Linked DNA regions of Homo sapiens: region 2 is linked to region 1. The links come from fine-mapping of genetic effects on plasma protein levels. A gene starts in region 1. The other region holds a variant in brackets. All regions are shown on one strand. Distances are from middle to middle.

Region 1 (10,338 bases):
CATTGACCAAAAGTGTATGTTCTGCGCCCTTTTCAGTGTATTCGCTACATCTCAACAATAGAAAGATAACAGGAAAACCAAAAATAAAGACCTGAGGCTGGAACGATTGAGTGAAAGGTCAGAAACTAAATTGTTATTTGTAGGGATGAGAGTTCTGTGCAAGGCTGGGACTGGAAAGTGCGAGTGGCCCAGCTTGAAAGGGACACCAGGTGACTGCAGCAGGGCCCAGCTTGTGCTTCAAGCCGCTTCCTGGGAGGCTGCTGGTCTGAGTCCCGGCTGAGGTGGTCACGAGGGCTCTCTCTTGAGTTTCAGACTGTTTCTGATGTCTTCCCGGCTAAGTCCCCTCAGCCTTGACCCTCATGCTATGATGCTGTCGCAGGCCTTGTGTGCTTAGGTGGGGGCTTTGCAGGGCTCCGGCCTCACCACACCTCAGTCCTGATGCTGCCAGCTTGTTGCTGGTGCTCTGTGAGGTCATGGAGACTCCTCCTCCATGAAGCCCTTCCCTGGGCTCCTGCCCACGCTGGCCTCCTGGTTTGGCCTCGCCTGGTGGCACTGGGACCCTGCTGGAAGCCTGCGGCTCATGCTGTCTGCTTTATTTCCTTGTTGTCTGCCTTTCCCGGCTCACCCACAGGCTTTGCCATAGAAGGGACTGGAACCTGCCTTCTCACCTCTCCCTTGGGGCACAGGCAGTGCATATACCAGGTGGCAGGCCACAAACCCTTTATCAGGACTCCATATTGCATCCCACACAAGTTCTTGGCTCTGTCCTGGGACAGCAGTAGACAAAGGGCATCTAGAATGTACCTTGTGACAGTGTGGCCTCTCAGATCCAGCCCGACTCAGCCAGCAGGACAAAGGGACCACGGCTTGGAATGCTGGCGCAGAAAGCAGACCTGGCTGGTGAGGGGTATGAGTCAGGTTGTCTCAGTGTCAGCCCGTGGTGTCCAAGAGGACATGCCTGGCCACCCACTAGCCTGGGACATAGGTGGGCCCAGAAATCAGCAAATACTGACCCCATCCCCCCATCACACCCAGCCAGAGCTTGACCCCCTCAGCTGGTCTAGTCATGAGTGCTCAGAGCCAGCCTAGAACTTCGTGTGAACCCAGCCCATGCACTCTGGGGTGCTGAAGGGCTCCTGCTGCCCCCAGAAAGGAAGTAGGGGGAGGCTACCTGGACCACCACAAGCCCTGCCCCCGGCAGCCTGCTGAGCATGGAAGGCTCCCAGCAGGTGCTTGTGACTGTTGATCCCTTTCCAGGCTGGCCCCTCCCTGTGGGGACCAGGGCTCTTTCCTGTCACTCCCAACCTTGACTGGTGGCAGCCTTGAAGAGCCAGCCAGGCCCGATTCTGGGGCTTTGCTCCCCATGCGATCTGGAGCAAGTTGCTTCACTCCCCTGAGCTACAGCCTCCTCTGCCAGCTGATAACAGGGTTGTGAAGATTCAACCAGTGAATCAGCAGCGCTTAGGAGCGCTCCTCCCCAGAGGGGAGCTTTAATCCCTGTTGGATTACAGGTTTCCTTGCTGAAAGATCTCCTTTCCAGGATATGGGGCTACAGAGCCCTGGGGGGAGGGCAATATCCTCTGCCCAACTGAAGGTTCAAGGAAGAGGGTTCTGGGGGAAGCATCGAAGCCTTGGAGAGCCTGATCCCAGAGGGAAGGAGATGTCAAGAACCTGCCCTGGTCATCTCCACCCATCAGGCCAGGGGCAAGAGAGGGGTGCTGTGGACAACCTGGGGTGGGATGTCTGGGCCACTGCAAAACTGGAGGCTCTGCCCTGTGGCCAGTACATTTGACCGACCTCAAGCTCACGCTTGGCGCAAACCTCCTGGAAGCCAGAGTGGTCCAGACGGGATGGAGTCAGGCCCTGGGAAAGTCTGCTCAGGGACACCCCATCTGCAAGAAACAACCCCTACACCATGCACAGCAGACCTCAAACCCCTGTGGAGCAGCCCAGGACTCATGCACCGGGACCCACCACTAACCTTTCCCCTTTGATCTCCCATTTCCTCCTTGTAGGAAGAGATAATAGTCATTGTCTGTGCAGAGCTGCTATGGGAATGAAAGAACATATATTGAATCCCTGGCGCAAGGCCTGGCACACAGCAAGAGTTCTTACCATTGTTAATCCTCCCCACCTTTTCTTACCAAGATACCACTTCTAGCTGTGTGACCTTAGACAAGTGTCCCGACCTCTCTGATTAACTTCTTCATCTGCAAAGTGAGGATAATGTGTACTCCCTCAGGGTGCTTGTGAGAATCAGTGGGTGAAAAGTGCTCAGAAATTGCTAGGTTGTACTGCAAAAAAAGTCCTTTGCATCAGCACAAAGCAGAGGCAGGTGGAGTGGGTGCCCTTGGTGAGTGGCAGACAGGCCTTGGCTAGTTTTTGAGAGAGCTGTTGGAGGTACCTGTGGCCATGGCTAAGCTCCAAGTGATGACACAGCAGGCCCAGGGGAGCTGCCTCTCCCACCTCGCCCCTGTGGCACGATCCTGGTACTCTTCCTCTACCCCTCCCAGGCTTTCAGCTCAGAGTCCTGGCCAGGCGTCATCCTCCTGATCAACTCAAGCTCGGCCAGCACTTCCACAAACTGGAGTCTGTCCCTTTAAGCCAGACACCTGAGGCCGCCAGGAACTTGTGACGGTTCCTTGGAATCCCAGGAAGATGGCAGAGTTGGTTTTCCACAGCTGGGCTGAGGAAGTGAGGTGGGTAGCAGGCTGGCAGCTGCCCTGGGCAGTGAGTGACCGCTGTGGTCTAGGTCTCTGTGTGGGAAATCACTTCCTTTTGTGGTCCTGGGATTCTAAGGCCCAGAATCAGGAAGGGAGGGTGACACGCTGGATGCCTACATACAATATCCATCACAGTGACAGTTGCCAGCTGCTCTTTACGTACTGTGACCTAGCACCTCTTCCAAGCCCCAGTGAAGCCCCTGGAGGCTCTAAGCACTGCAAGATCTTAGTGCCCCAGGGACAATAAGCCCCGCCCCCCAGCAACATGGAATTACAAATACAAACTACACTGAACTCTAAAATGCAGACAAATAATTCCAAGGCCTGCCTGTAATCCCAGCATTTTGGGAAGCTGAGGTGGGAGGATCTCGTGATCTCTTGAGGCCAGGCATTCGAGACCCACCTGGCACTACTGTGAGACCCCATCTCTACAAAAAAATATAAGAATTAGCCAGGTGTGGAAAAAAATTAACCAGGCATGGGGGCATGCGCCTGTGGTCCCAGCTACTTGGGAGGCTGAGATGGGAGGATAGCTTGAAGCCAGGAAGTCGAGTTATAGTGAGCTATGATAGCGCCACTGCACTCTAGCCTGGCTGACAGAGCGCTGTCACAAAAAAAAAAAAAAATTCAACAAAATCCAGACTTTTCTTGCGTTGACTACTTCAACACTGCTTTTCATCTGTTCCTTTTTTTTTTTGAGACAGAGTCTTGCTCTGTCACCCAGGTGGAGTGCAGTGGCACCATCACTGCTCACTGCAGCCTCGACCTCCCAGACTCTAGTAATCCTCCCACCTCAGCCTCCCGAGTAGCTGGGACCACAGGCGTGCACCACCATGCACAGCTAATTTATTTTAGATTTTTTGGTAGAGACGGCTCACTATGTTGCCCAGGCTGGTCTCAAACTCCTGGCCTCAAGTGATCCTCCTGCTTCCGACTCCCAAAGTCCTGGGATTACAGGTGTGAGCTACCGTGTGATTAATAGATCACCACCTATTAATAATAATCAATTAATTATTGGAGTCTTTTTTTTTTGAGATAGAGTCTTGCTCTGTCACCCAGGCTGGAGTGCAGTGGGTGCCGTCTCAGCTCACTGCAACCTCTGCCTCCCAGGTTCAAGTGATTCACCCACCTCAGCCTCCCAAGTAGCTGAGACTACAGGTGTGCACCACCACACCCAGCTAATTTTTGTATTTTTAGTAGAGATGGGGTGTTGGGAGCCGAAAGGGCCAAAGGGATTGTGACCAACTCAGCATTCCACTGAAGGCTATATGATCAAACAGCCACCTGTTTATCACGAATGCAGGATGTGGGCAAACTCCCACTGCCCTGCCACCAAAAGGTTTGCTGAGGGCCTTACTCCTTGGCACTGGGGTCCCTGAAGTTATCTACTGAGAAAATTAGCACCTATTGTTCAAAGGATGCAGTCTCACAAGCCTGCTGTGAACCAAAGTGCTGACCGACAATTACCTGACATACCCGACAATCACCCTCCCCCTTTCTCGCTATCTCTTTTGCCTACTACATACAGAGGGCTGTGTAAAGCTCAGGGCCCTTGTCCACTAGAGGCAAGGTGCCCCCTGACCCCTTCTTCCAAATATACTCTTTTGTCTCTTGTCTTTTATTCCCACGTTTGCCCGGCTTTGTTCAGTCCCCCTAGGTCCGTGCGGGCTATGATGGGGTTTCACCATGTTGGCCAGGCTGGTCTCGAACTCCTGGCCTCAAGTGATCTGCCCACCTCGGCCTCCCAAAGTGCTGGGATTACAGGCGTGAGCCACCACACCTGGCAATTATTGGAGTCTTTAAAAACACAGTCATGGGCCTTGTTTGCTGGTACCTCCAGCACATGCTCACTGTATCCACGGGACAGCCAGATTCGAAACATCAATATCAGAACAAACTTAGGAGATAAGGTGTCTTTCAGACGAGGGCACGGAGGCTCTGTGTGGGAGGTTGAGGGACTTGCCCAAAGCCATGCCGTCAGTAAGATGGCAGAGCTGACATGACTGACACCCCCTCCTTCTGGGCAGTTTGTGTCCTGTGGGCTCAGTCTGGTTTAAGACCACAGATTTGACTTAGACTGTCAGCACACACAAGCCAGTGTCACCATTTATTTCCTGCCGGTGTCTTTGGGCAAATCCATTTTCCCTTCTCTGTAAAGTGGAAACTATTTTTTTTCTTTTTTCTTTTTTTTTTTTGTGAGACAGAGTCTCTCTCTGTCACCCAGGCTAGAGCGCAGTGGTGCCATTTTGGCTCACTGCAACCTCTGCCTCCCAGGTTCAAGCAATTCCCCTGCCTCAGCCTTCTGAGTAGCTGGGAATTCAGGTGTGTGCCACCACGCCTGGCTAATTTTTGTATTTTTGGTAGAGACGGGGTTTCACCATGTTGGCCAGGCTGGTCTTGAACTCCTGACCTCAAGTGATCTGCCTGCCTCGGCCTCCCAAAGTGCTGGGATTACAAGTGTGAGCCCTCATGCCCGGCCTTCTTTTTTTTTTTTTTTTTTTTTTTTTTTTTTGAGTCAGCGTCTAGCTCTGTCGCCCAGGCTGGAATGCTGCAGTGGTGAGATCACGATTCACTGACTTGAACTCCTTGGCTCAAGTGGTCCTCCCACCTTGGCCTCTCAAAGTGCTGGAATTACAAGCATGCCTAGGTGCCTGGCCAGGTAGAAACATTAGTCACTCGCGCTCCAGGAAGGTTGTCAGGCAGCGCTGAGCAGTAATGTGTCCTACTCACCTGCTGTTTATCCAGCACCAGACCTCTTCTAAGAACTTTACCTGTTTCAGCTCACTGAATCCTCACAACACCCATTGTACAGAAGAGGAAACTGAGGCAGCGAGTGGTTAAGTGACTTCTCCGAGGTTACACAGCTAGGAAATGGTGGCAACAGTAAGAGCCCACGAAGAGCTGCGGTTGGTAGTTCATTCTGGACAGCCCTCCCGTGAACCGTCCCTGTACTGGCACTTGTTGCTGGGGACTGTCGCTGTCCTCTCCCTCCCCGGGCCAGGTGTGTCCTGGAGGGCAGGGAAGCGTCTTGGCACGCGGGTGCGCGCCGCCCCCTCGGCCTCCTGGGCTCCCTGAACCTCGCAGGACCCCGGCAACTTCGAGCCCCGCCCCAGCTCCAGGCCGCGGGGGCGCATCGCGGGCGTCGGGCGGGGCGGCCCAGCGGGTAAAAGCTGCGCGGCCGCAAGCTCGGCACTCACGGCTCTGAGGGCTCCGACGGCACTGACGGCCATGGCGCGTTCGAACCTCCCGCTGGCGCTGGGCCTGGCCCTGGTCGCATTCTGCCTCCTGGCGCTGCCACGCGACGCCCGGGCCCGGCCGCAGGAGCGCATGGTCGGAGAACTCCGGGACCTGTCGCCCGACGACCCGCAGGTGCAGAAGGCGGCGCAGGCGGCCGTGGCCAGCTACAACATGGGCAGCAACAGCATCTACTACTTCCGAGACACGCACATCATCAAGGCGCAGAGCCAGGTGCGGCGGGCGGGGTGCTGGGAGGGGACACCCGGCCCAGATGGGGGAGGCCACAGGCGCTGCCCCAGCGTGCATGAAGGGGGCCTAAAAGCGCAATCGGGATATTTTCATGCAATATTTTAAAAATCGAATTAATGCTAAAACTCCACGATGGACAACCATCTAAATTTCAAGGAAAGACATAATTAAACCCTGTATTGCACTACCTGCCTTCCTGGCTTGCCTGGTCCTAGTCTCTGCCCTGATGGGGTGGATCGGGGAGGAGGGAAGGCAGGTGGGGACAGTGGGCAGCTCCCTAGATGGGGCATGTCTGATGTCTGCCAAGGCTGCTGGTGGGGCTCAGCCTCCAGGCCTCTCCACCCTCCATCCCCACCAGAACTCCCCCCCCCACCCCCCCCCACCCCCCCCCACCCCGTCTGAATCATCCCCTCTCCCTCTCTCCCCACCTGAGTGCCTGGGGGCAACAGGAGAATATATCAAGAGGTGAGAAGTGAGGATCAAGGGTCAAGACCCCTGACCTGCCCCTACCCTATGCCCCCAGCTGGTGGCCGGCATCAAGTACTTCCTGACGATGGAGATGGGGAGCACAGACTGCCGCAAGACCAGGGTCACTGGAGACCACGTCGACCTCACCACTTGCCCCCTGGCAGCAGGGGCGCAGCAGGAGGTAACAGCTGGGCTCCTCCAGCCCCAGCCCTCCCCAGAGCCTCAGGCACTCAGGTTGTCCATCCTGAACTGGTTTGGCTGGACACGTAGATGTCTAGATGTCTGGCTGAACCTGTCGTCCTTCTGGATGAGTCAGCCTCTGGGCCAAGATGGGGTGCAGAAAGGAAGCTGGGGCTTCCCTCGGGAATGGGGAAGTTGGCTACCAAGATCTGGAGTCTAGCCCCAGACATGCGGCTTGACATCCGTTGGGTCAGTGATTGTCCCTCTCTTGGCCTGGAGCAGCCTGGCAGGCAGAGGGCTGGCTGTTGGGAGGAGACAGGTCGAGGCTGGGCTCACCCCTCCTTCTCCCCCATATTCCCTCCACAGAAGCTGCGCTGTGACTTTGAGGTCCTTGTGGTTCCCTGGCAGAACTCCTCTCAGCTCCTAAAGCACAACTGTGTGCAGATGTGATAAGTCCCCGAGGGCGAAGGCCATTGGGTTTGGGGCCATGGTGGAGGGCACTTCAGGTCCGTGGGCCGTATCTGTCACAATAAATGGCCAGTGCTGCTTCTTGCATTGGTTTCTTCCAAGTGCTTCGCTTCTGCCCCCATCCCCCACTCCCACTTCTGGCAGCTCCCAGCTCCCCAGCCCAAGCTGAGAGGTCACCCTGCCACCTGCAGCAGAGCTGCTGCTGTCCCAGCCCAGACAGTGCTGAAGGTGCAGGGCTGAGCCTCCAAATGTGGAGCCCCCAAACACCCCAGCATCACAGGCATAGAGGAACAAACCTTAGAGCCCCCACACACAGCCAGAGACTCCCAATATTCTCAGAGGTCAGGGGTGGCGGCAGACTCACAGAGGAGGGGCGATGGCCTGAGATAAGAACAGGGCCGGCTGCCTGGGAGCACTCTGAGGAGGAGTCTGTGCTGTGCTCCCACTCAGCCCCAGGAGGAGCTCATGGGTGGCATGGGGGGCTTCAATCAGGCAGTGTCCTCACCCAGGACACTGAGCTCCCAGCCTATAAAGATTCCTCCACCTGCATGTGGCCCAACGATGGCAGAGTCCCTGCAGGCCAAGAGACCATGAAGGCTAGGACAGTGCCTCTCAGTCCACACTGTGGGCTCCACGCCACAAGGACGCCTCTCTTGCCTTGCCCTGGGCAAGACGCCTGAAAGGGGCTAGACTAGGAGCCGCAGAGGGACAGAGATTGTCTAGCGCCCACAGGAGGGGTGAGGGGACAGATTCAATGTAATGTCATTTAAAGAAAACAGCATTGCAGCCGGCCTCACACCTGTAATCCCAGCACTTTGGTAGGCTGAGGTGGATGGATCACCTGAGGTCAGGGGTTCAAGACCAGCCTGGTGGCCGGGCGCGGTGACTCACGCCTGTAATCCCAGCACTTTGGGAGGCCGAGGCGGGCAGATCACGAGGTCAGCAGATCGAGACCATCCTGGGTAACACGGTGAAACCCCGTCTCTACTAAAAATACAAAAAATTAGCTGGGTGTAGTGGCGGGCGCCTGTAGTCCCAGCTACTCGGGAGGCTGAGGCAGGAGAATGGCGTGAACCCGGGAGGTGGAGCTTGCAGTGAGCCGAGATGGCGCCACTGCACTCCAGCCTGGGCGCCAGAGCCAGACTCCATCTCAAAAAAAAAAAAAAAAAAAAAAAAACCAGCCTGGCCAACATGGTGAAATCCCATCTCAACCAAGAATACAAAAATTATCTGGGTGTGGTGGCAGGTGCCTGTAATCTCAGCTACTCAGGAAGCTGAGGTAGGAGAATCGCTTGAATCCAGGAGGCAGAGGTTGCAGTGAGCCGAGATTGCGCCACTGCACTCCAGTCTGGGAGACAGAGCGAGACTCCATCTCAAAAAAATTAAAAATAAAAAAAGAAGAAGAAAACAGCATTGCAACATTTGCACATCTGAATTTGTGGCTGCAATTCATACCCCCCCATACATATACACACGCACACACCCAAAGCACAACACACCAGACATACACACACAGACACCCAGAGCACACACTCAGATGCTGGCAGATATCACATGCATACCCAGAGAAACACAGCCTAGCAACTCATGAGCACAGAAGCAACACACCCTAGAGAAACAACCTGGAGATGTACACACAAAACTCAAACACAACCCAAGGACCCACATGCCACACCCAGAGGTTCCTCAGATGCACAAGCACACACCCACACTTGGGATATGGGCCTTGGGGGTGCTAGGTATAGGCACCATCAGGCCCAGGCAGGCAGCACTGCAGTGGCTGCGGAGAGCATCCCACGGTCCTTCCTTTCTGACAAGGCCTCACACCCTGCTTGTGCCTGCCTGGTCCCCTGCCCAAGGCTGGGGCCTAATAAGCAGCAGCCCCAGCTCCCAGGCCCTGCTGTCGGCCTTTGGAGGCCAGATTGGGGTAGAGACGGGGAAACGGGAAGTAGACCCTGGGTCCCACCTGGGAGTGAGAAGCTGAGGGGTGGCATTTGACAGGAGCTGGGGACCCAGGAGACAACATCCAGCCCTGCTTCTGCTCAAGCTTGTCAGATGTGGCAGCTCAGACAGCCCAGGGTGTGTGCGGGGCCTGCTGCTTGGAAGGGCTCCCATGTGCCACCAAGCAGGGACTCCCAGCATGGGGCAGGCACAGGGTGGGTGGCAGGAAATGCCTGTTGAATGAATGTGTGAGGTGGTGGAGAGAAGCAAGGCCCAGAGACGCCTGCCCGGTGACCTCTCCGCCCCTGGAATCTGTGCCCAAATCCCAGATGGCATTTCCTCCGCATAGTCTATTCCTGGGCCCTGGGCCCTGGGCCAGCCAGTGCCTTCCGCCAGACCAGGGAGGGGAGGTGCTTCTTCTGTCCTGGGACCCTGGAAGCTCCAGCACTGACTGGTCTGGTCCAGAGATGGGAGGGTTGGCAAAAAACTATTGCCCTTCAGCTCCCGCTCCTGACTCCCTCCGGCCTGAACTGCACCCTGGATTCGCCTCTACTAGAGGTGAGATGGCTGTTGTAGATAATGGAAAACCCTCCACTTAAGGAGAGACCCCTGGGGCCAGGGCGAGGCTTGAACTTGACTCAGTGCTAGGTCTCCAGCACCCAGCATAGGCCAGTGTCCCACTGTCACCCCCAGCCATGGGGACAGGGGCTCTGGACATCCAGCCTAGGCTCAGGCTATCAGTCGGGGAGGTCATCTAAGTCCTAGAGCAGGCAATGGGGCGCAGCCTTCAGCCTCATTCCCTGCTTCCCTCTCCCAGCAGCAGGGTCCTCCACACATCCCTGCCCGCCCCTTGCCCTGAGGCCAGAAGGACTTGAGCAGCCCCGACTCCACCTCCCCTCAGTGGGGCTCTAGAGTCTGACCCCAGAAAGGGCAGGATATGGCAATGACCTCCGACCTCTGGGTTCATGATATCCCCATCCGGTTGGTGCTCTTCTACTGGAGCTGAGGGTCCTGGTAGGATTGAGTTCCTGGGCTCTGAGTCCCCATTCCTAGAGCCTATTGGGCCCCCAGG
Region 2 (10,338 bases), 79 kb before region 1:
GCTTTAGGCTGGGTGTGGTGGCTCAAGCCTGTAATCCCAGCACTTTGGGCAGCCAAGGTGGGCGGATCACCTGAGGTTGGGAGTTCCAGACCAGCCTGACCATCATGGAGACACCCCATCTCTACTAAAAATACAAAATTAGCCGGACATGGTGGCGCATGCCTGTAATCCCAGCTACTCGGGAGGCTGAGGCAGGAGAATTGCTTGAACCCGGGAGGCGGAGGTTGCGGTGAGCCAAGATCGTGCCATGGGACTCCAACCTGGGCAACAGGAACGAAACTCCATCTCAAACAAACAAACAAACAAACAAAAAAGAAAAGAAAAGGGAAGCTTTTCAGGGCCCTATGGCTGCATGGAGTGCCCCAAACTAAGGCGCATGTCTGCTTGATTCTATGCACCCTGTGTTGAAAAAACAGAAAAGACATTGTCAGAATGGGCCCAACCTCAGGGGACAGCATCACATAGGGCAGGGTAAAGCATGGCCCTGCAGGATTCATGGGATCATACATTGTCTTCATTCAGTCACTCAAGAAATATTTGCTGAGTACCTACTCTGTGCCGGGCCCTGCTCTGGGCTTGGGGAAGGTGAACTCAGAGAAAACACACAGAGCCTCTGCTCCCTAGCTCAGTCCAGTTGGGGGAAGGGGCAGCAGACTGATGGTAAACAAATAGGTACATTCACGCCTCTCCAGGGGTAGTGGGGAGAGGGGACCCCGAGGAGGCCAGCGTGTTGAAGCCGCAGCAAGCAAGTGGGTGGGCAGGGCCCTGGTTCCTCCAGGGGGGTGCGGCTGCCCTGTTTTTAGCCACAGATGCTCTTCCATTCCAGCCTGGTGCCCAGAGTCGGTTTCACTTTCCTCTTACCCGTTTTCTTAGAGTTTGGTTTCTGTTTTGTGGGTTCCCTGCCCCCCTTCCGCCTTTGTCTGGAGTTGCAGATTAGCCTAGTGGTTCTCAACCCTGGCTACATCTTAGAACCCTGGGGAGCTTTTTTTTCTTTTTTTCTTTTTTTTTTTTTTGAGACAGGGTCTCATTCTGTCTCCCAGACTGGAGTGAAGTGGCGCGATCTTGGCTCACTGCAACCTCTGCCTCCCAGGTTCAAGTGATTCTCCTTTCTGCCTCAGTCTCCCCAGTAGCTGGGGAGGCTACTCGCCACCACGCCTGGCAATTTTTTGTATTTTTAGTAGAGACAAGTTCTCACCATGTTGACCAGGCTGGTCTCAAACTCCTGACCTTAAGTGATCCACCCGCCTCGGCCTCCCAAAGTGCTGGGATTACAGGCCTGAGCCACTGTGCCCGGCCGACCCTGGGGAACTTTAAAATACCCATATCTGGGCCTGTCTTCAGTTAGATCAGAAGCCCTGAAGATGAGCCTTCCCAAACTCTGGTCTCGTCTTCTTAACTCGGTGAGAACAACGGTTGCCCTCCCAGTGCAGTGGTAGGAAAATCACCTATGCAATGTCAGGGCTCCTCCCCTTTATCTTCCGTTTTTCAGGGATCACAGCCCTGAGCTGCCCTTTGTCTAATATCTGAAAACACTTGTTTCCTGTGCTTTGTCCAGTTTCTTAGCTGTTTGTAGAAAAAGGGCAATTTCAGTTCACCTTACTTCCTCAAGGCCAGAACCTAGAGTCCCTCCTCATCCTTTGAACTCCCCAAGTCCTTCACCTGTCCCCTCTCCAAGTTTCTTCCCATGCTCTGGCTGGGATAACTGTGCTTGCAGGTTTCACCTCCACTTCTGGAAAGCGCCCCTCTTGGGGACACAGGGCCTGTCGGATTCACGTCTGTGTCTCCAGGATGTCTCACAGGGCCTGGCACGTGGTAGGTACGTGGTGGGCATGTTTTTGTGCATGGGTCTGCCCTGCCCTTCTTCCTTCAGGCCACCCCAAATCATATCCGTATCCCTAGAGAACTGACGCCCACCCCACTCCAACCAGGTGGCACCTCCAGGACCGCTGGTCAAGATACCCTCCCCACAGCCATTGGTCAGGGGTGGCCGTGAGACTCAAGACAGCACATGTGGCCGGGTGCAATCGCTCACGCCTGTAATCCCAGGACTTTGGAACGCTGAGGCAGGCAGATCACCTGGGATCAGGAGTTCAAGACAAGCCTGGCCAACATGGCAAAACCCCATCTCTACTAAAAATACAAAAATTAGCTGGATGTGGTGGTGGGTGCCTGTAATCCCAGCTACTCAGGAGGCTGAGGCTGCAGAATTGCGAGAACCTGGGCAGTGGAGGTTGTAGTGAGCCGAGATCGCACCACTGCACTCCAGCCTGGGCGATAGAGCAAGACTCCGTTTTTTAAATAAATTACCCAGTTCCAGGTTTTCTGTTATAAGCAACAGAGAATGGGTGAAGACATTTATTTTTATCTTTAATAATGTATTTAGGCCAATTGTATGCTAGAGAGACCTGACTACTACAAGACATCATTGTATGCTTGCCGAATAAATGAAATACCATTGATTAATTTGCAAACCACATTCCCAGTGCACCTGAGGTGGCTTCCAACAAGAACAAGGAAGGTAAAATTTAAAAAACAGAAATGGAGATTCAAGAATGTGGATGGGTGCAGTGGTATACACCCGTGCTACCAGTGGTGCACTCCCAGCTACTCTGGAGGCCCGAGGAGGGAGGATCACTTGAGACCAGGAATGTGAGTCCAGACTGGGCAACATAGCAAGATCTTATCTCTAAAAACAAAAAATTTTAGGCCGGGTGTGGTGGCTCATGCCTGTAATCCCAGCACTTTGGGAGGCTGAGGAGGGCGGATCACGAGGTCAAGAGATCGAGACCATCCTGACCAACATGGTGAAACCCTGTCTCTACTAAAAATACAAAAATTAGCTGGGTGTGGTGGTGCACGCCTGCAGCCCCAGGTACTCGGGAGGCTGAGGCAGCAGAATCTCTTGAACTCGGGAGATGGAGGTTGTAGTGAGCCAAGATCGTGCCACTGCACTCCAGCCTGGTGACAAAGCGAAACTCTATCTGAAAAAAAAAAAAAAAAAAAAAATTTAGGCCACATGGGATGGCTCACACCATAATCCCAGCACTTTGGGAGGCCAAGGCAGGAGGATCACTTGAGGCCAGGAGTTTGATACCAGCCTAGGCAACATAGTGAGACCCTGTCTCTAAAAAAATTATTAAAAAATTTTTTAAATAAAATAATAAAATATAATTAAAAGAGAAAATAAAGATCAGAAACAATAGCATACATATATAAATATGCAACCCATAAAGGCCTGTAAAAGTGCTTTATTAATTCAATATCAAATTTAGTTCTGAGCTTTCTGGCAGCCAAAGCAAAAAACTTTTTTTTTTTTTTCCGGAGAAAACTTCTTCAGTGGAAAGAAATTTTTTCCTAGACTTTAGCTGCAAAAGAACAGTTTCAGATGGGGCCTGCGGTGTGATGTGGTGAAGGCCAATCTCAGCCGCATTCGCACAGCCAAAGCCTGTAATAAGCCTCCCACAATGAGTCCTTGGAGAATGGGTCCAGGCGATTCAGTTGTTCTCATTTGGGCTCGCCTTGACCTCTCAGTGGCTCTTGTCATAGTTGGTCGCTTGCCTCCTCTTTGAAACACTTTCTTCACTTGGATGGGGGCCCTCACTCTCTTGGCAATCTTTTTTTTTTTTTGAGACGGAGTCTCGCACTCTCACCCAGGCTGGAGTGCAGTGGCGCCATCTCGGCTCACTACAAGCTCCGCCTCCCGGGTCCACACCATTCTCCTGCCTCAGCCTCCCGAGTAGCTGGGACTACAGGCGCCCGCCACCACGCATGGCTAATTTTTTTTATTTTTACTAGAGACGGGGTTTCACCGTATGAGCCAGGATGGTCTCGATCTTCTGACCTTGTGATCCGCCGCCTCATCCTCCTAAAGTGCTGGGATTACAGGCGTGAGCCACCGCGCCCGGCCTCTCTTGGCAATCTTCTTCCCCACCGTGGGCTGTGGTCTTGTCTCCATGGCCACATCTCCCTGACCTCTCTTGACCTCTGAATGGTGGTGGGCCCAGGCTCAGACCTCTCCCCTGCCCTCCCTTCCCCTCCCTTCCCCTCCCCTCCCACTTCCTGGATGACAGGCCACTGTTTCCACCCCAGGCCCTCCAGTCTAATTTCTACTCACAGCCAGAGGGAGTGCAGCCATTACATCTTATGCTGCCATTTCCTCATCGTCCTGTGATCACCTAAAGTTACTAAACAAATCTCTATTAAAGTGCCCAGTTTTGTGTAGTGGCCAAATCCCAGAACTTGATTTAGAATGAAGTATTCTTGGGCTGGGCGTGGTAGTACGCACCTGTAGTCCCAGCTGGTCGTGAGGCTGAGGCTGCAGGGATCGCTTGAGTTTGAGGCTGCAGGGACCCAAGATAGCACCACTGCACTCAAGCCTGGGCAACAGAGCGAGAGCTTGTCTC[AAAAC/A]AAACAAACAAACAAACAAACAAACAAAAAAAACGAACACAGCTTTTTCCACTTCTGGCCATTGCAGCCCCCACTGATAAGGAGTCAGGGAAGTCGGGTCTGCGCCTCTCCCTGGCCCCATTCCCAGGCTTGAGAAGACGCTGCCTTTGGAGAACAGGGAGGGAGGGCAGTGGGTGCAGAGAGTGCATCCTGGATTGACACTGGTGTAAGATGGCATCTCACTCCTTGGGTGGCAGCTGTCTAAAGCTGGCTCCTGCCCTCAGGGGTTTTATGGGCTCCCTTATGTACTACCCCCTTGACTGAAACTCCTGGCAAAGGGGCAGCCCCTCTCTGTTGACTGGCTCTGGTTTTCTTTCAAGTGGCATGCACTACCCCACTCTGTTGCATACCCTGTGCCAGAGAAAACAAGCCCGTGGGGCCAGACCCCTTTTTCCATTCCTGCGGTCCAGTGCCCACTGCAGGTCACCTCCTTTCTGGAGGCCTTTCCTACCAATGACCCACGGGGGTGCCATGACTGCAGGAAGCCCACCTCAAGCGCTCTGGGGGGCTTCCTTGAAGCACTTCTCACCAGATTTGAGGTTAGAAGGCAGCTCCCCAGCTCCACCCCCTGCAGACTCACTGCCATAGCAGCTCTTTCCAAATCAAATCACCGCAAACTGCCCCTTTCAAATCCACCCTCGATCCCTTTATACTCTTGCGGTGGATGAGGGGCTTCGACAGTGGCAACATGGGTTTCTGCTTTCTTTAAAATTTTGCAGTTTGGCCAGGAGCAAGCACTTCACTTTGGCATTTCATATCCATTCCATTCTAGAGCCTCAGTCAAATATTCTTGCACGCTGTTCATCCTTAGGACAAACCCAGAATCCTTTCCCTGGCTCCCAGGCCCCACGTGATCTGACTCTTGAGCACCCCCCCATGGAGGTTTATTTATTTATTTTTTTGAGGCGGAGTCTCACTCTGTCGCCCAGGCTGGAATACAATGACGCGATCTCAGCTTGCTGCAACCTCTGCCTCCCGGGTTCAAGTGATTCTTGAGCCTCAGCCTTCCGAGTAGCTGGGACTACAGGTGTGTGCCACCATACTTGGCTAATTGTTTTGTATTTTTTTAGTAGAGACGGGGTTTCACCATGTTGGCCAGGCTGATCTCAAACCTCTGACCTCAAGCGATCTGCCCAACTCGGCATCCTAAAGTGCTAGGATTACAGGTGTGAGCCACCGTGCCCAGCCCCCCATGGAGGTTTAAAATATCAAAATACCAACCTGGGCACAGTGGCACACACCTGTAGTCCCAGCTACTCAATAGGATCGTTCTAGCCCAGGAATTTGAGTCCAGTCTGAGCAACATAGCAAAACCCCATTTCCAAATAACATAAAATATCAAAATACCAAAAAACATTACAAATAATTGTATGTTGGTAAATATAGAAACTTAAGCAAAGTAAATACCTTTCTGGAAGAATGTGAAATGTCAAAATTGGCACAAAAATATCAAAACTTCAGTAGACCCATAACCAGGAAAGAAAATTGAGTAGCTCATGCCTGTGACCTCAGCACTTTGTTTTATTTTGTTTTTGAGATGGAGTCTCACTCTTATTGCCCAGGCTGGAGTGTGGTGGCGCAATCTCGGCTCACTGCAACCCCTGCCTCCCATTTTCAAGCGATTCTCCTGCCTCAGCCTTCCGAGTAGCTGGGATTAAAGGCGCCAGCCACCACGCCCAGCTAATTTTTTTGTATTTTTAGTAGAGACAGAGTTTCACCACGTTGGCCAGGCTGGTCTCGAACTCCTGACCTCAGGTGATCCACCTGGCTAAGCCTTCCGAAGTGCTGGGATTACAGGTGTGAGCCACTGCACCCGTCCTAACCTCAGCACTTTGGGAGGCTAAGGCAGAAGGATCATTTGAGGCGAGGAATATAAAATCAGCCTGGGAAACATAGCGAGACCCTGTCTCTTGGGAAAACAACAACAACAACAACACTACAATAGGCCGGGCACAGTGGCTCACGCCTATAATCTTAGTACTTTGGGAGGCTAAGGCAGGCAGATCACCTGAGGTTGGGAGTTCGAGACCAGCCTGGCCAACATGGTGAAACTCTGTCTCTACTAAAAATACAAAAATTACCCGGATGTGGTGGCACATGCCTGTAATCCCAGCTACTTGGGAGGCTGAGGCACGAGAATCACTTGAACCTGGGAGGTGGAGGTTGCAGTGAGCCGAGATCACTCTACTGCACTCCAGCCTGGGCGACAGAGCAAGACTCCATCTCAAAAAAAAAAAAAAAAAAAAAACTAAAAGAAAAAGAAACTTGTAATCTGAGACTCCAATGTGAAAAAACCCAATAGAAATGTTTTTATAGGGCAGTTCTACCAGCCTTTGGAGGAACAGATGGTCCTTATCTCACACCAGTTGTTACAGAAGCCAGAAAGAGAGAAGGCTGCCCAATTTCTTGTATGACCCCCGCAAGCCAGATAAAGACAGTATCAGAAAAGTCTGTACACAGAGCATTTCGTTATGGACACAGATGTTAAGCGTAAACTAATAGAATAGAATATAGGAAAATACCCCACCTAGGGATAGGAAAAGAAAGACTCTCAAAATACAAAGCTCTATTCAAAAACATTTATGAGTCTAACTCCATCAAAATTAAAGATTTTTTTTTTACCAGACTTAAAAAAAGATTAAGGATTTCTGGCCAGGCACGGTGGCTCACACCTGTAATCCCAGCACTTTGGGAGGCCAAGGTGGGTGAATCACTTGAGGTCAGGAGTTCGAGGGCAGCCTGGCCAACATGGTGAAACCCCATCTTTACAAAAATTAGCCAGTCGTGGTGGCACATACCTGTAATCCCAGCTACTCGGGAGGCTGAGGCAGGATAATTGTTTTGAACGTGGGTGGTGGAGGTTGCAGTGAGCTGAGATTGCACAACTGCACTCCAGTCTGGGTAACAGAGCGAGAGAGCGAGAATCCGTCTCGAAAAAAAAAAAAAAGTACCAGACCTCATTTTATGACCCCAGGGTTAGTCAAAATTCATAAGGTGAATAATGTCAATGTTTGGTGAGAATGTGGGCAGACAGAAATCCTTGGTCTTCTGTAGGCACATAAACTGACAGCCCTTCTCTCAAGCAATCTGAAATTAGGTGTATGTTTATGCCAAGACCTTACACTCTCAGCCTTGGATAAGTAGGCCAGAGAGATTCTCATTCAGGTGTACAAAGAGGCATGTGCAGCGGTGTTGACCACGGTGTTCTTTGTGAGAACAGGACTTGGGAGCCAGTCTGGCATCCATTGTCAGAAGGATGAATTAAGTAAAGCATACAAAGGGAAACTACGGAACACTATGCAACAGTCAGGATCTACAAGGCTTTTAAAACACAGTGCGGGCCAGGCACAGTGGCTCACGCCTGTATTCCCAGCACTTTGGGAGGCCGAGACGGGCGGATCACCTGAGGTCAGCAGTTCAAGACCAGCCTGGCCAACATGGTGAAACCTGGTCTCTACTAAAAAATAAATACAAAAATTAGCTGGGTATGGTAACGCAAGTCTGTAATCCCAGCTACTTGGGAGGCTGAGGCAGGAGAATTGCTTGAGCCCGGGAGGTGGAGGTTGCAGCGAGCTAAGATTGCACCACTGCACTCCAGCCTGGGCAACAAAGCGAGACTCTGTCTCAAAAAAAAAAAAAATCAAAAAACAAAAAACAAAAACAAAAACCACAGTGTTAGCAGCGGAGGGTGGCATGTGCCCATAATCCCAGATACTTGGGATGCTGAGGCGGGAGGATCTCTTGACCCCAGGAGTTTGAGGCCAGCCTGGGCAATATGAGACCTTGTCTCTAAAAACAAAACGATGGGGCATGGTGATTCATGCCTATAATTCCAGCTTTTTTTTTTTTTTTTTGAGAAGGAGTCTCGCTCTGTTGCCCAGGCTGGAGTGCAGTGGCATGATCTTGGCTCACTACAAGCTCTGCCTCCCGGGTTCACGCCATTCTCTGGCCTGAGCCTCCCGAGTAGCTGGGACTACAGGCGCCCGCCACCATGCCCGGCTAATTTTTTGTATTTTTAGTAGAGACGGGGTTTCACCATGTTAGCTAAGATGGTCTCAATCTCCTGACCTCGTGATCCTCCCTCTTCGGCCTCCCAAAGTGCTGGGATTACAGGCGTGAGCCACCGCGCCCAGCCTAATTCCAGCTTTTATTTATTTATTTATTTATTTCTGAGATGGAGTCTTGTTCTGTCACCCAGGCTGGAGTGCAGTAGTGTGATCTCAGCTAGCTGCAACCTCTGCCTGGGTTCAAGTGATTCTCCTGCTTCAGCCTCCTGAGTTAGCTGGGACTACAGGTGTGTGCCACCATGCCCGACTAATTTTTGTATTTTTAGTAGAGACGGGATTTCACAGTGATGGCCAGGCTTGTCTTGAACTCCTGACCTCAAGTAATCCACCTGCCTCGGCCTCCCAAAGTGCTGGGATTACATGCATAAGCCACCTTGCCCAGCCTGATTCTAGCATTTTGAGTAGGCTTAAGCGGGAGGAGTCCTTGAGGCCAGGAGTTCAAGATTAGCCTAGGCAGCATAGTGAGACCTCTGTCTCTCCAAAACTAATTTTTTTTTAAAGTAGCCAGGCATGGTGGCACATGCCTGTAGTCCAAGCTACTCAGGACGTTGTGGTTGTGGTAGAGGATCACCTGAGCCCAGGAGTTCGAGGCTGCAGTGAGCTATAATCACACCACTGCACTCCAGCCTGGGTGACAGAGTGAGGCCTTATCTCTAGAAAATAAAATAAATTTTAAAAACCCTAAAGCACAGTTTTGAAGGAAACGAGTAAGGAACAAAAATGAGATCAATACTGCTTATGCAAATTAAATACATACAATACCATTTATTTATTTTTATACTTAGTTTTATTTTTTATGTTTTTCTTGAGACAGGGTTTCACTCTGTCACCCAGACTGGAGTGCAGTGGTGTGATCATAGCTCATTGCAGCCTCAACCTCCTGGGCGCAGGTGATCCTCCCGCCTCAGCCTCCCGAGTAGCTGGAACTACAGGGACACGCCACCATGCCCAGCTAATTTCTTTGTATATTTTTGTGGAGCTGGGGTTTCACCATGTTTCTCAGGCTGGTCTCCAACTCCTGAACTCCAGCAATCCACCTACCTTGACCTCCCAAAGTGCTGGGATTACAGGCGTGAGCCACTGCACCCGGACCACAATACCACTTACATAAACAAAAAATACATACACACAAAAATGATAAAAGCTTCACAATGATCCGTTAACATCTTTCTTTCTTTCTTTTTCTTTCTTTCTTTCTTTCTCTCTCTCTTTCTTTCTTTCTCTCTTTATTTATTTATTTTTTTCAGAGTCTTGCTCTGTTGCCCAGGCTACAATGCAGTGGCATGTTCTCAGCTCACTGCAACATCTGCCTCCCATGTTCAAGCAATTCTCCTGCCTCAACCTCCTGAGTAGCTGGGATTACAGGCACGTGCCACCACGCCTGGCTAATTTTTGTATTTTTAGTAGAGATGGGGTTTCACCATGTTGGCCAGGCTGGTTTCGAACACCTGACCTCAAGTGATCCACCTGCCTCGGCCACCCAAAGTGCTGGGATTACAGGCATGAGTCACCACGCCCAGCCTATTCACATTTAAATAGGATGGAGCGGGGATCAAAGATGAAGAAGAAAATACAAAGGCAAAACAAGAGTCGCATTGCATCCATTGATGCTTTTTGTATGCTGTGAAATAAGGAATACAATAAACTCAGCTATCTGCTCCCCAGGACTAATGCAGAAGAGAAATGTGCAAAGGACATGGACAGGAATTCACAGAGGTAGCACAAATGGTCCATGGAGATAGGAAAATACTTGAACCTCACAAATAATGAAGGTGTGGAGACAAAAATGACCCCATCTTAGACGTGAATCCGCCATGCTGACTTC

Direction of the effects. Alleles are on the strand shown, and positions count from the first base shown. The strength of an association depends on the size of the effect and on how common the allele is.
With allele A in place of AAAAC in region 2, the plasma level of the protein whose gene starts at base 5,915 in region 1 is higher (moderate association).

Evidence for each region. PIP is the posterior inclusion probability: the model's chance that the variant is causal. The UK Biobank Pharma Proteomics Project read protein levels with antibody pairs (Olink). The fine-mapping took linkage between variants from a reference panel, not from the people measured, so its PIPs are less certain.
Region 2: its variant is fine-mapped to the plasma level of the CST6 protein (UK Biobank, PIP 0.96).

The regions. Positions count from the first base shown.
Region 1 is chr11:66,006,094-66,016,431 of GRCh38, forward strand. CST6 (cystatin E/M) reads left to right here and starts at 5,915. Exons shown (of 3, transcript NM_001323.4): 1 at 5,915-6,191; 2 at 6,733-6,858; 3 at 7,224-7,412. The coding sequence starts at 5,952. The coding sequence ends at 7,307. RefSeq lists a silencer at 1,265-1,559 and enhancers at 2,217-3,011, 7,397-7,972.
Region 2 is chr11:65,927,392-65,937,729 of GRCh38, forward strand. No RefSeq gene overlaps it. Among named protein-coding and RNA genes, the nearest start is that of TSGA10IP, 13 kb to the right of the region's middle. RefSeq lists a cis regulatory region at 481-1,046 and enhancers at 583-1,012, 727-1,021, 9,846-10,338. The variant AAAAC/A (reference allele first, on the strand shown) is at 4,404.